3 linked regions of the Homo sapiens genome follow. The protein of the gene in region 2 interacts with the protein of the main gene of each other region in a biochemical or structural test. Each region holds a gene or a part of one and is shown on either strand. Other genes may lie near its edges. The genes, in order: SLC15A2, SHANK1 and PLCB2.

Region 1 (2,796 bases), on a different chromosome or scaffold from region 2:
TTGACATTTCCATTTTAGAACCTCAAACCTAGAGCATTAATGTAACTTTTTTTGAATAAAAAGAAAATTTCTAGGCTTCAAGGCAGAAATGGTATTTAAAACTTATGGGAAAAGTAAATCAGGAAAACAACATCAAAAAGGAACTACTTTGATATTTTTGAGGCTAAATGGAAACATTAATAAAGGAAGTTGGACTTATAGAAACATTGTTGTTATTGAATATTTGCTGCAATAAGCAAGACAAGGTGTAATAATAAGAAAAAGCTGGATCAGCAAGGTTGACAAGACAAGGTTGCAAATTATAATTATTGTTTATACAACTGTTCACTGAAGGGCATAGACCAGCGCCATAGAGGCTAAGAAGAATGTACTCTGTAAAAGAATGACTGGCTCTTCAGGATTTCTACAACTTACACCTGTTCCTGTTCTCCAGAACAATGTTTACTAATGCTTACTATCTCTAATCTGGTTTCCATGATCTATCCATACTGAGAAAGGAGGGTTTGGATAAGTAAATAAAATACTATCATAATCAGAGAGATATAACTTCTCCTGTGTTTTAATAAAATGGCATTCTGCTTCCTACCATCTATATTGACAAATTTACTAAAGTCATATCAAACCTAGAGAGCTGACAAGCCAGGCCCTGGCTGGACCAGATCACATCATACATACCAATTCTTGAGGCCCCTGTGAATAGCATAATTACATTGCTTATAAAAAAAAAAACTTGAAATACCATTTCTTTGTTATTCTGCAATTTTGCCTCTAAATCAGCACCTCAAAAATTAGGGCCATCAGTCCTAAATGGCAGTTACCTATAAAGGAATTCCCATAACTTTGCATACCCACAGAGAATGATCTCCATTATACGTGTGTATTTTCATGGTCATTTGGAGACACCAGGCCAGCTCCAGCAACACTGCACAAGTTTTAATGAGTTCACTGATGGACGGGCAGACATAGAGTCTCTGGGGCCTTGTTTAAAGATGTACTGGAAAACCAGTCCTGGAACTTCTGTCATTGGAGAAAGGTGGAGGAGATCAGCTCTGATATGCTGCTATCTCTCTTGTCTAATCCAGTAGAAGAAAAAAAATGCTTCAAGACAGGGCCAGGAATTGGGGTCAGGACAGAATCTAGGGAGTCATCAGAGTTTTGTCTTCTTGGTCTCTAGTTTGATCATGTTCCCCTGGATGTGAGGAATGTGCTTATCTGCTGGACCCCGCATATCCTCTGTCTTTACAGGAACATAGTAGTAGCCCATGATGGAGAAGATCAGGCAGATCACCAGCAGGAGGCAGGAAAACAAAATGAATTCGGCCCACTGCAGGGGGAAATAAATATGAGAAGAATATGGAGAAACCTGAAACTAAAGAGATCTTTACAGGATGAGGAGTGGGGAGCAGACTGACCTGGGATCACCAGTTTAACCAGACTTTTGCTGGACAAAGACTGGGTTCACTGGCCTCTCCTCACATAGGTATATTGTAGTCATTATTGCCACTTACATATGTCTATTTTCCTGGTAAAGTCTGTATATCTAACCCATTTCATGTCACAGCACTGAATGGGGAATGTGGGAAGCAGAGAGATGGGGGAAAGGGAGAAGAGAAAGCTGGAGGAAAAACTTGAGTAGAAATGAATCCTGCTTCCCTCAGATCCATACCTGTACCAGGCCACTGAACTGTGCCACAACAAGCACGATGATATTCCCAACTGCAATTGTCAATAGCCAAGCTGCCTGGAGCACAGATTTCATGCTAGAGGGAGCCTGGGGATGACACAAGTTTGAAAGTAAACAAACCCCCTTCACTGCCCTCATGCCCCATGCATCCAGGAAACTTCTCCCACAAAAGCTTCCAAGTTAGAACTTCTCTTATTAAGTTCAGCTATCACATTGATTCAGAGGGTGTTAATAATGTAAACAGTAAGAATAAGATGAAGCTCCTAACTGAATATATTTAAACTCATTATGTCATATAATCTTCATTACAATCCTAAGAGATAAGTTCTATTCGTATTCTTATACATTTAAAAAATAGTATTACAGACTGGGCGCAGTAGCTCAAGCCTGTAATCCTAGCACTTTGGGAGGCCAAGGTGGGCAGATCATCCAAGGTCAGGAGTTAGAGATCAGCCTGGCCAACATGGTGAAACCCTGTCTCTACTAAAAATACAAAAATTAGCCAGGAATGGTGGTGTGCGCCTATAATCCCAGCTACTCAAGAGGCTGAGGCAGGAGAATCGCTTGAGCCGGGGAGGCAGATGGAGTCTCGCTCTGTCGCTCAGGCTGGAATGCAGTGAGCTGAGATCGCGCCACTGCACTCCAGCCTGGGCGACAGCATTACAGAGATAGTAATTTACTTGCTCAAGGTTACACAATAGGTCATGCAGCCAAAATTTGAACACGGGAAGTCTGACTCTGCAGCTCTTCATTTTAATCTTTAATCTCTTTCCTAGAACCCCAAAATCATAGACTCCCATGCTGTACTGTCATGACCTGGGGAGTTAAGATGTTCAGGTCATATATGTTCAGGGTCATAAATAAGGTACCCAAGGCCAAAAGAGATAACATACCTATTTAAGTCAGTGCTAGAATTAAAATTCATTGTCCTTCAAGCAATGCCTCAATTTCTACCTTCTATTTGCAAAAACTTACCTGAGAATAAGAAAACTCAAGACCTGTGACAGAGAACATGACCTCCCCAGCTGTAACCAGGGCATATTGTGGTAGCTGCCACGCAATGGACATTTTGTTGGCTGGAATGTCTTCAATCTTCCAGGCCTGAAGACCCT
Region 2 (3,652 bases):
TCCACAATGTGTGTCCCCTTCCTTCTGGGCCTGGCAGAAAGTGTGATTAAGATAGAAGACTTTGGAGTCAGAGAGATCTGGGTTCGAATCCAAGGCTGATAATCACCAGCTGTGTGACCTTGAGCCCCCCCAACCCCCCCTTTTTTTTGAGACAGGGTCTCACTTTGTCACCCAGACTGGAGTGCAGTGGCATGAACAAGGATCTTTGCAGCCTCGACCTCTTGGGCTCAAGTGATCCTCTCACCTCAGCCCCACAAGTAGTTGGGACTACAGGCGTGTGCCACCAAGCCAGGCTAATTTTTTAAAATTTTCTGTACAGACGGGGTTTCGCCATGTTGCCCAGGCTGGTCTCAAACTCCTGGGCTCAAGCGATCCTCCCTCCTCGGCTTCCCAAAGTGCTGGGATTACAGGAGTGAGCCACCACCCCTGGCCCACCTTGGGCTCTTTTGAAAGCCTTAGTTTCCTCCTCTGTAAAATAGAGACAATTTCCATGTCCTGGAATTGTTGGGCAATTCAATGAGCTTCTGCCTCTAAAGTGCCAAGCGCCTGGCACGTAACATGGTAAGCCTCCGTAAGGTCTAGACCTGTGGTTCTCAACCTGGGAGCTTCTGTCTCCCAGGGGACACTTGGCAATGTCTAGAGACATTTTTGGTTGTCATGACTGGGGAGGGGAGTGCTACTGGCATCTAGTGGTAGAGACCGGGGATGCTACTCAACATCCCACAGGGCTCAGAACACCCTCCACAAACCAATGAATCACCAAAGGATTATCCGGCCCCAACATCCAGTGGAACATAGCATGAGCACATACCCTAAATGCCCTCAAATATCCTAGTGGCCATGTTAAAGAGAAGGGGAAAATAATTAGGTGACATTTATTTTAACAACATATTTTACTTATAACAGTGTATCTAAAACATTATCATTTCAACATAGAATCAATACAGAAATTATTATTTTTTTTTGAGACAGAGTCTCACTCTGTCACCCAGGCTGGAGTGCAGTGGCAGGATCTCGGCTCACTGCAACCTCCACCTCCTGGGTTCAAGTGATTCTCCCACCTCAGCCTCCTGAGTAGCTGGGATTACACACGCCCACCACCACGCCTGGCTAATTTTTGTATTTTCTGATAGAGACGGGGTTTCACCATGTTGGCCAGGCTGGGCTCAAATACCTGGCCTCAAGTGATCCACTCACCTCAGCCTTCCAAAGTGCTGGGATTACAGGTGTGTGTCACCACACCTGACATTTTTTTTTTCTGGGGGGGAGACAGGTCCCTGCTCTGTCACTCAGGCTTGATCTCAGCTCACTGCAGCCTCCAACTCCTGAGCTCAAGCGATCCTCCCACCTCAGCCTCCCAAGTATTCGGGACTCCAGGCACCCACCACCTGCCTGGCTAATTTCTGTTTATTTTTTTGTAGAGACGGGGGGCGTCTCACTATGTCACCCAGGCTGGTCTGGAACTCCTGCCTTGGCCTCCCACAGTCTTAGGATTACAGGCTTGAGCCACCACGCCTGGCTATAGACATTTAAATTCTTTCTTGTTTTCATATGGCATATCCTTGAAATCCAGTGTGTAGTTCGCATGCATGGTGCATCTCCGTTTGGGCCGGCCACGTTTAAACTAAAGTGCTCCTGGTCCGTACCTGGCAGGTGGCTGCTGTCCTCAGTGGTGCGGGTTTAGGGTGGAGTATTTATTCCTGAGGCTCTTAGCACAGAACCTGCATCCACTCATGGTGATCTTAATTTTTTCTCTCTCTCTTTGTCCTGTGCCACTGGCCATTACCCGCAGGAGACCTGTGCCAGGATCCTCCTGTATCGAGGTGCCGACAAGGATGTGAAGAACAACAACGGACAGACCCCCTTCCAGGTCTGGGGCTGCAGGGGATGTGCTGGAGTTTCCAGGGCTAAGGAAAGGGTGACAGTGACACCCAGTGGATAAGGAAGGGGACAATGAGGAAAGCAAGGAGACAGGCCGTGGAGGGGGAGCTGGAAGAAGACAGAGGGCGGCATTGTCGGAGTGGAAGGTTTGGGTCGGGCCAGGGACCTCGCCACGTTCCCTGCCCTCTCTCTGCTGCCTGGGCCCCCCTGGCCGACCTGCCTCTACCCCCTCCCTCCAGGTGGCAGTGATTGCTGGGAATTTTGAGCTGGGGGAGCTGATCCGAAACCACCGAGAACAGGATGTGGGTGAGTGACAGGGAGCTCGGACTGCACAGAGAACCTGGGGCGGTTGAGGTTTCATGGTGGGATGGGGGAGTTGGGGGACCTGACTTGGGGGCCAGGATAGGATGGAGAAAACCCTAGAGGACCAAAAATGTCTGGATGGTGGTGGGGGAGCAATTCCAGGCCCCCCTCCCTTTCTCATCTCTGTCTTTCTCCCTCATGCCTCTCTCCCACCATCTCTTGCCCCCGCATGGCCCCCTGCTTGCCTTTTCTCCCCTAACATCTGCCCCCCGCCGCCACTGTGCCCTCTCAGTGCCCTTCCAGGAGTCCCCCAAGTACGCGGCCCGGCGACGGGGGCCCCCAGGCACAGGGCTGACGGTGCCCCCGGCGCTGCTGCGGGCCAACAGTGACACCAGCATGGCGCTGCCCGACTGGATGGTGTTCTCCGCCCCGGGGGCCGCGTCCTCTGGGGCCCCTGGCCCTACCTCAGGGTCCCAGGGCCAGTCGCAGCCCTCGGCCCCCACCACCAAGCTCAGCAGCGGGACCCTCCGAAGTGCCAGCAGCCCCCGGGGTGCCAGGGCCCGCTCTCCATCCCGAGGGAGGCACCCTGAGGACGCCAAGAGGCAGCCCCGAGGCCGGCCCAGGTAGGGGAGGCAGCCCTGGCTCCACAGTCCCCAGCCCCGTCAAATCCCCTCTCCAGATCGGCGGCTTCCCCCGAGGCCAGCCCAGCTGCCTTCCTCTGTAGGCCCTCATCCAAGTCCCTAGTGTCACCTTGGGGTAAAGCAAGGCCTTGGGAGCTACTGTCCCGACTCCACCCCCGGTGCACCACATGTTAGCTGGATGTCTGCTCCAGGACAGGGGCCCCAGGCAGAGGGTACCCCAAAGAAACATGGGCCCCAGCCCCTGGGGACAGACAGAATGACAGGGTGAGGTGGAGGGAAGCTGAACAGGAAGAGGATGGGGGGGGTGGCAGGGACTTGAGGGGGACAGAGAGGTCACTCTGGAGGGAGGATGAGGAAGGGGCGGGGGACATTCCGGGGTCAGGAAGCCCACCTGGCTAGAGGAGGGTGAGAAGGAGGCGAAGGCCAGCCAGGCGTGTCCCGAGGAAGTGGGGGAGAGGCTGGCAACGGCGGGCAGAGGAGTTGGACCTGACCCAGGAGGAAGCTGGGAGTCGCGGAAGGCTCGTGAGCGGAGGGATGACACAGTCCCAGCTCAGCCTCAGGAAGCTGAATCAGGCGGTGCGCGCAGGACCGTGGGAGGGGGCAGAGCCGGAAGCCAGGAGGCAGGAGAGGGGGCTGGTTGGGGCAGCTGCGGGCAGGCAGAGGGAGCCCCCAAATGCCCTCTTCCTTGGAGGACGCCAGTGCTGGGAAACCCCCCCTCCCCCCTGATGCACCGTCCTCTTCCCCCACCCAAGGACCCCTGTCCTCCCAGAGGTGTCCCCTCCCTCCACCCTCCCCTCCTCTCATGCCCTCTGTGTACGCAGCTCCAG
Region 3 (3,652 bases), on a different chromosome or scaffold from region 2:
TTTCTGCAATAGCCTCAATTGCTTCCTGGAGGAGAAGGAGACTCCATGAACAGAAGGTCAGCGTTCCGACTGCCTGTCTCGTGATAGCACTTTTCCCCCCTGCCTAGTTTCAATACACACATATAACTGCATGGCCGCCATTGGCCCCCAATCCCTGCTGGTCCCCAATGGTCTGAGGCCTTCCAGCCATTCATCTTCTCTAGCTTCAGCCCTCCAACCCCTCAAAGCTTCTGGCCCAGAGCCCTTCCCTACTGCCACGGCCACCAGCCTCTGTGCCCAGGGTCTCACTTTGAAGAAGATGTCTGTGGTCATGGTGAAGCCATGGGTGATAATGGGCTCCTCGTCAGGGGGTTTCCCCTTCCAGCAGTCTAGCTCCACGCAACGGCAGCCAGAGAGCAGCACCTGGCGGTACATCTCAGCCGAGGAGAGGCCTGAGAACTGGCCGGCTGAGCCAGAGGATGGGGAAGAGGTGAGGGCATCACCCAAAGGCAGCCCAGCTCTCCCCCTACCGCCACTCCATCATGGTCTGTGTTATTCTCAGGGCCAGCAGCATGTGGGCAACCCCTGTGGAGGATGCAGGGAACCCCTGTGAAAGCAGAGGTTGGCACCAATGTTATCAGGGCCCACCTGTCAGGTAGGTGTTGTGGGACGAGTTGATGAAGTAATGATTGAGTGGCTGCGTCATGTCGTGGTGGAGCAGCAGCTTGTCCTGGGCCAGCACGCTGTTCTCTGGCCCACAGAGAAACCAGACCATGCCTTCAGGTGACAGCTGGCCTGGGGGACAGGAGATAGCTGTCAGGCTACAACCCCGCTGCCAAGGCAGGACAGGACCACAGGGGACAAGGGGTTCCCTTAGTCCTCACCCCTCTGTGCATTGATGCCACTGGGCTCATACTTGTCGATGAGGCCCTGCACCTGGTCAGGCCGTGCTGGCGGGAACAGCAGGGAGTTAAGCCGGGAGTCCCGCTGTTTCTGGTTGATGAATTTGGTCAGGTGCTCCTTCGTCATGTAGGGTTTGGCCTTAGCATGGCTTCAAGCCAGAGAGAAGAGCACAGGTCCATATCCCTTGGGCCTGGAGGCTTAGACAACCCCCTTGTCCAGTGAAGCCTCCTGACTCCCGGCATGGCAGGTGGGAGGAGGGGATTGTTAGCCACCACCCTTTTCCCATGACCAGCACAACCCAAGAAACTCACTAAGAAGTGAAGATCTCATCTATTTCTGGCCGAGGACAGAGGCTCATGAGGAAACTCTTGTAGACAGGTTCTGGGAAGTCCTCAGGATTGATGGCGTCATTCTAGGGGCATAGTAACCTTATTGCCCCTGCCCTCACCTTCTCAGAGCTAAGAACCACAAACTCGGCCCAGCCCTGGTCAAGGGGACCTGGTCAGAAGGCGGGCTCAAGGCAGACAGAAGAACTTCAAGGACACCCAAGCATCCACTTCTCAAGGCCCTGGTTGCTGAGCAGAGAGCATGCTTAGCTGGTTTGCTCTGACCCTGATTTTGTACAGTGGCTATTCCATTGGCTGGGGCAGGATCGGAACTAAGAATAACCAGAATGAGGTAGAAAAGAGGTCAGAAGAAATGATGCTGCTTGCCAGGCTAGTAGGCTATCTTTTTTAAGTGGAGGACAAATATTCAAAAAGAAGCAATTTGAATATAAACATATATGCACCTAACAACAGAACCCCATAATATATAAAACAAAAACTGATAGAATTGAAAGGAGGACAATTCAACAATAATATTTGGAGACACCAAAAGCACCGGGACAAAGAAAGATAAATTAAACGTCATCAAAATTAAAAACTTTTGTGCTTCAAAGGACACCATCAAGAAAGTGAAAAGGTAACCCACAGAATGGGATAAAATATTTGCAAATCAGATATCCGATAAGAGATAAGTCAACAAAAAGACAACCCAGTTGAAAGATGGACAATGGATTTGGACAGGTATTTCTCCAAAGAAGATATATAAGTGACTAATAAACACAGAAAAGGTGCTCAATATAATTTGTAGTTAGAGACATGCAAATCAAAACCACAATGAGATACCACTCCCACTAGGATGGCTAAAACAAAAAACAGACAATCACAAGTGTCAGCGGGATGTGACTAACCTAAAACCCCACACAGCACTTTGGGAGGCCGAGGAGGGTGGATCACCTGAGGTCAGGAGTTCGAGACCAGCCTGGCCAACATGGTGAAACCCCATCTCTACTAAAAATACAAAAATTAGCCCAGCATGGTGGCACATGCTTGTAATCCCAGCTACTTGGGAGGCTGAGGCAGGAGAATTGCTTGAACCTGGGAGGCAGAGGTTGCAGTGAACTGAGATCACGCCACTGCACTCCAGCCCGGGCAACAGAGTGAGACTCTGTCTCAAAAATAAATAAATAAATCCCTACACAATGCTCTCACTTTAGAAAACAGTTTGGCGGTTTCTCAAATTGTTAAATATAGAGTGACCACATGACCCAACAATTCCACCCCTGGGTATATACCCAAGAGAATTTACACATGTTCACACAAAATCATGTACATGAATATTCATAACCAAAAAGTACAAAAAACCCAAACATCTACCAACTGATAAACAGATGAACAAAATGTGGTATATCCATACAATGGAATATTATTAGGTGGTAAAAAGGAATGAAGTACTCATGCATGCTACAACATGGATAAACCTTGAAAACATTATGAGAAATGAATACAGCCTGACATCGAAAAGCATATATTTATGATTTCATTTACTTTACCACCAGAATAGGCAAATCTATAGAAATAGAAATGAAAAGTACATTTGTGGTATTCAGGGATTCTGCACCTTTGCATTCCTTCCCCCCCCAAAAAAAACATTAAATGTCTTTCAGAATCACACTGGAAGGCCAACATCAGTCTTAGTTTGGAGCAGAGGGTCTGAGCAGGAGAGTCTAACTGGATCTCCCCAAACCCCTCCCTGTCTCTGGAGCTTCAGCTCCAAGCAAAGTTGGGTCAGTAGCCTCTACTGAGACACAAGGAAAGCAGATAGATAAGGAGGACTTAGCCAAGGGAGGAGCTCAGGCAGCAGGAGAGAGGGAGGGTGGATGTGTGCTGACCACAGGTAAGTGTTGCTGGCTGTAGGGGAGCCGCAGGAGCCCATTCCTACCTCTCCCCAACGCCACATTTGGATCCCTGTGACTGACTGCATCAAGGAGTCACCAACTCTGCAGAGCTGTGGCTGTGGGGTAAATGCTCCTCCTGGGATTCATGTGGGCAGGTGATCAATGGGGGTCGTGGTTTTATTTATTTATAACGTTCCAAATTCTTACCAGGAGAAAATACTCCATGGGGTATAGGCTGGGACCCACACAAGAGCACTGGCCAAGCAGGGACAGGGGCTGAGATTCGCTCCATTGGCCAGGCTTGAAGCCTAGCTCAGGGCCATATCAGCCCAGAGGGCTCCTTTTTGTAATTCACACAAGTTGCTTCATGGGGTGACCCTGCTTACAACTTGTAATTAAAAATTAATTATTTAACTAAAAAGACAGGGAAAAATGCTTTTCTGTACAGAGCAGAAGTCTGCATCTTGGCAGCTTCCGCCTTTGGTTCAGTTCCTCTCCCTCGACACGCTGCAGACTTCCAGATCCCTGCAGACTGCCGCCTGCCACTGC

The links.
Region 1: the proteins of SHANK1 (region 2) and SLC15A2 interact in a test that uses a peptide from one of them, tested with the Homo sapiens proteins (one large-scale study listed by IntAct).
Region 3: the proteins of SHANK1 (region 2) and PLCB2 interact in a test that uses a peptide from one of them, tested with the Homo sapiens proteins (one large-scale study listed by IntAct).

Annotation. Positions count from the first base shown.
Region 1 is NC_000003.12:121,939,359-121,942,154, reverse strand, and holds part of SLC15A2 (solute carrier family 15 member 2), read right to left. Parts: coding exon 2,660-2,796; intron 1,772-2,659; coding exon 1,667-1,771; intron 1,325-1,666; coding exon 1,148-1,324; 3' UTR 1-1,147. UniProt on the Homo sapiens protein: Proton-coupled amino-acid transporter that transports oligopeptides of 2 to 4 amino acids with a preference for dipeptides. Transports neutral and anionic dipeptides with a proton to peptide stoichiometry of 2:1 or 3:1.
Region 2 is NC_000019.10:50,702,655-50,706,306, reverse strand, and holds part of SHANK1 (SH3 and multiple ankyrin repeat domains protein 1), read left to right. Parts: intron 1-1,792; coding exon 1,793-1,870; intron 1,871-2,120; coding exon 2,121-2,187; intron 2,188-2,476; coding exon 2,477-2,807; intron 2,808-3,646; coding exon 3,647-3,652. UniProt on the Homo sapiens protein: Seems to be an adapter protein in the postsynaptic density (PSD) of excitatory synapses that interconnects receptors of the postsynaptic membrane including NMDA-type and metabotropic glutamate receptors via complexes with GKAP/PSD-95 and Homer, respectively, and the actin-based cytoskeleton.
Region 3 is NC_000015.10:40,297,935-40,301,586, forward strand, and holds part of PLCB2 (1-phosphatidylinositol 4,5-bisphosphate phosphodiesterase beta-2), read right to left. Parts: exon of another isoform or gene 2,733-3,652; intron 1,541-2,732; coding exon of another isoform or gene 1,475-1,540; exon of another isoform or gene 1,312-1,474; intron 1,295-1,311; coding exon 1,194-1,294; intron 1,031-1,193; coding exon 864-1,030; intron 775-863; coding exon 628-774; intron 447-627; coding exon 289-446; intron 26-288; coding exon 1-25. UniProt on the Homo sapiens protein: The production of the second messenger molecules diacylglycerol (DAG) and inositol 1,4,5-trisphosphate (IP3) is mediated by activated phosphatidylinositol-specific phospholipase C enzymes.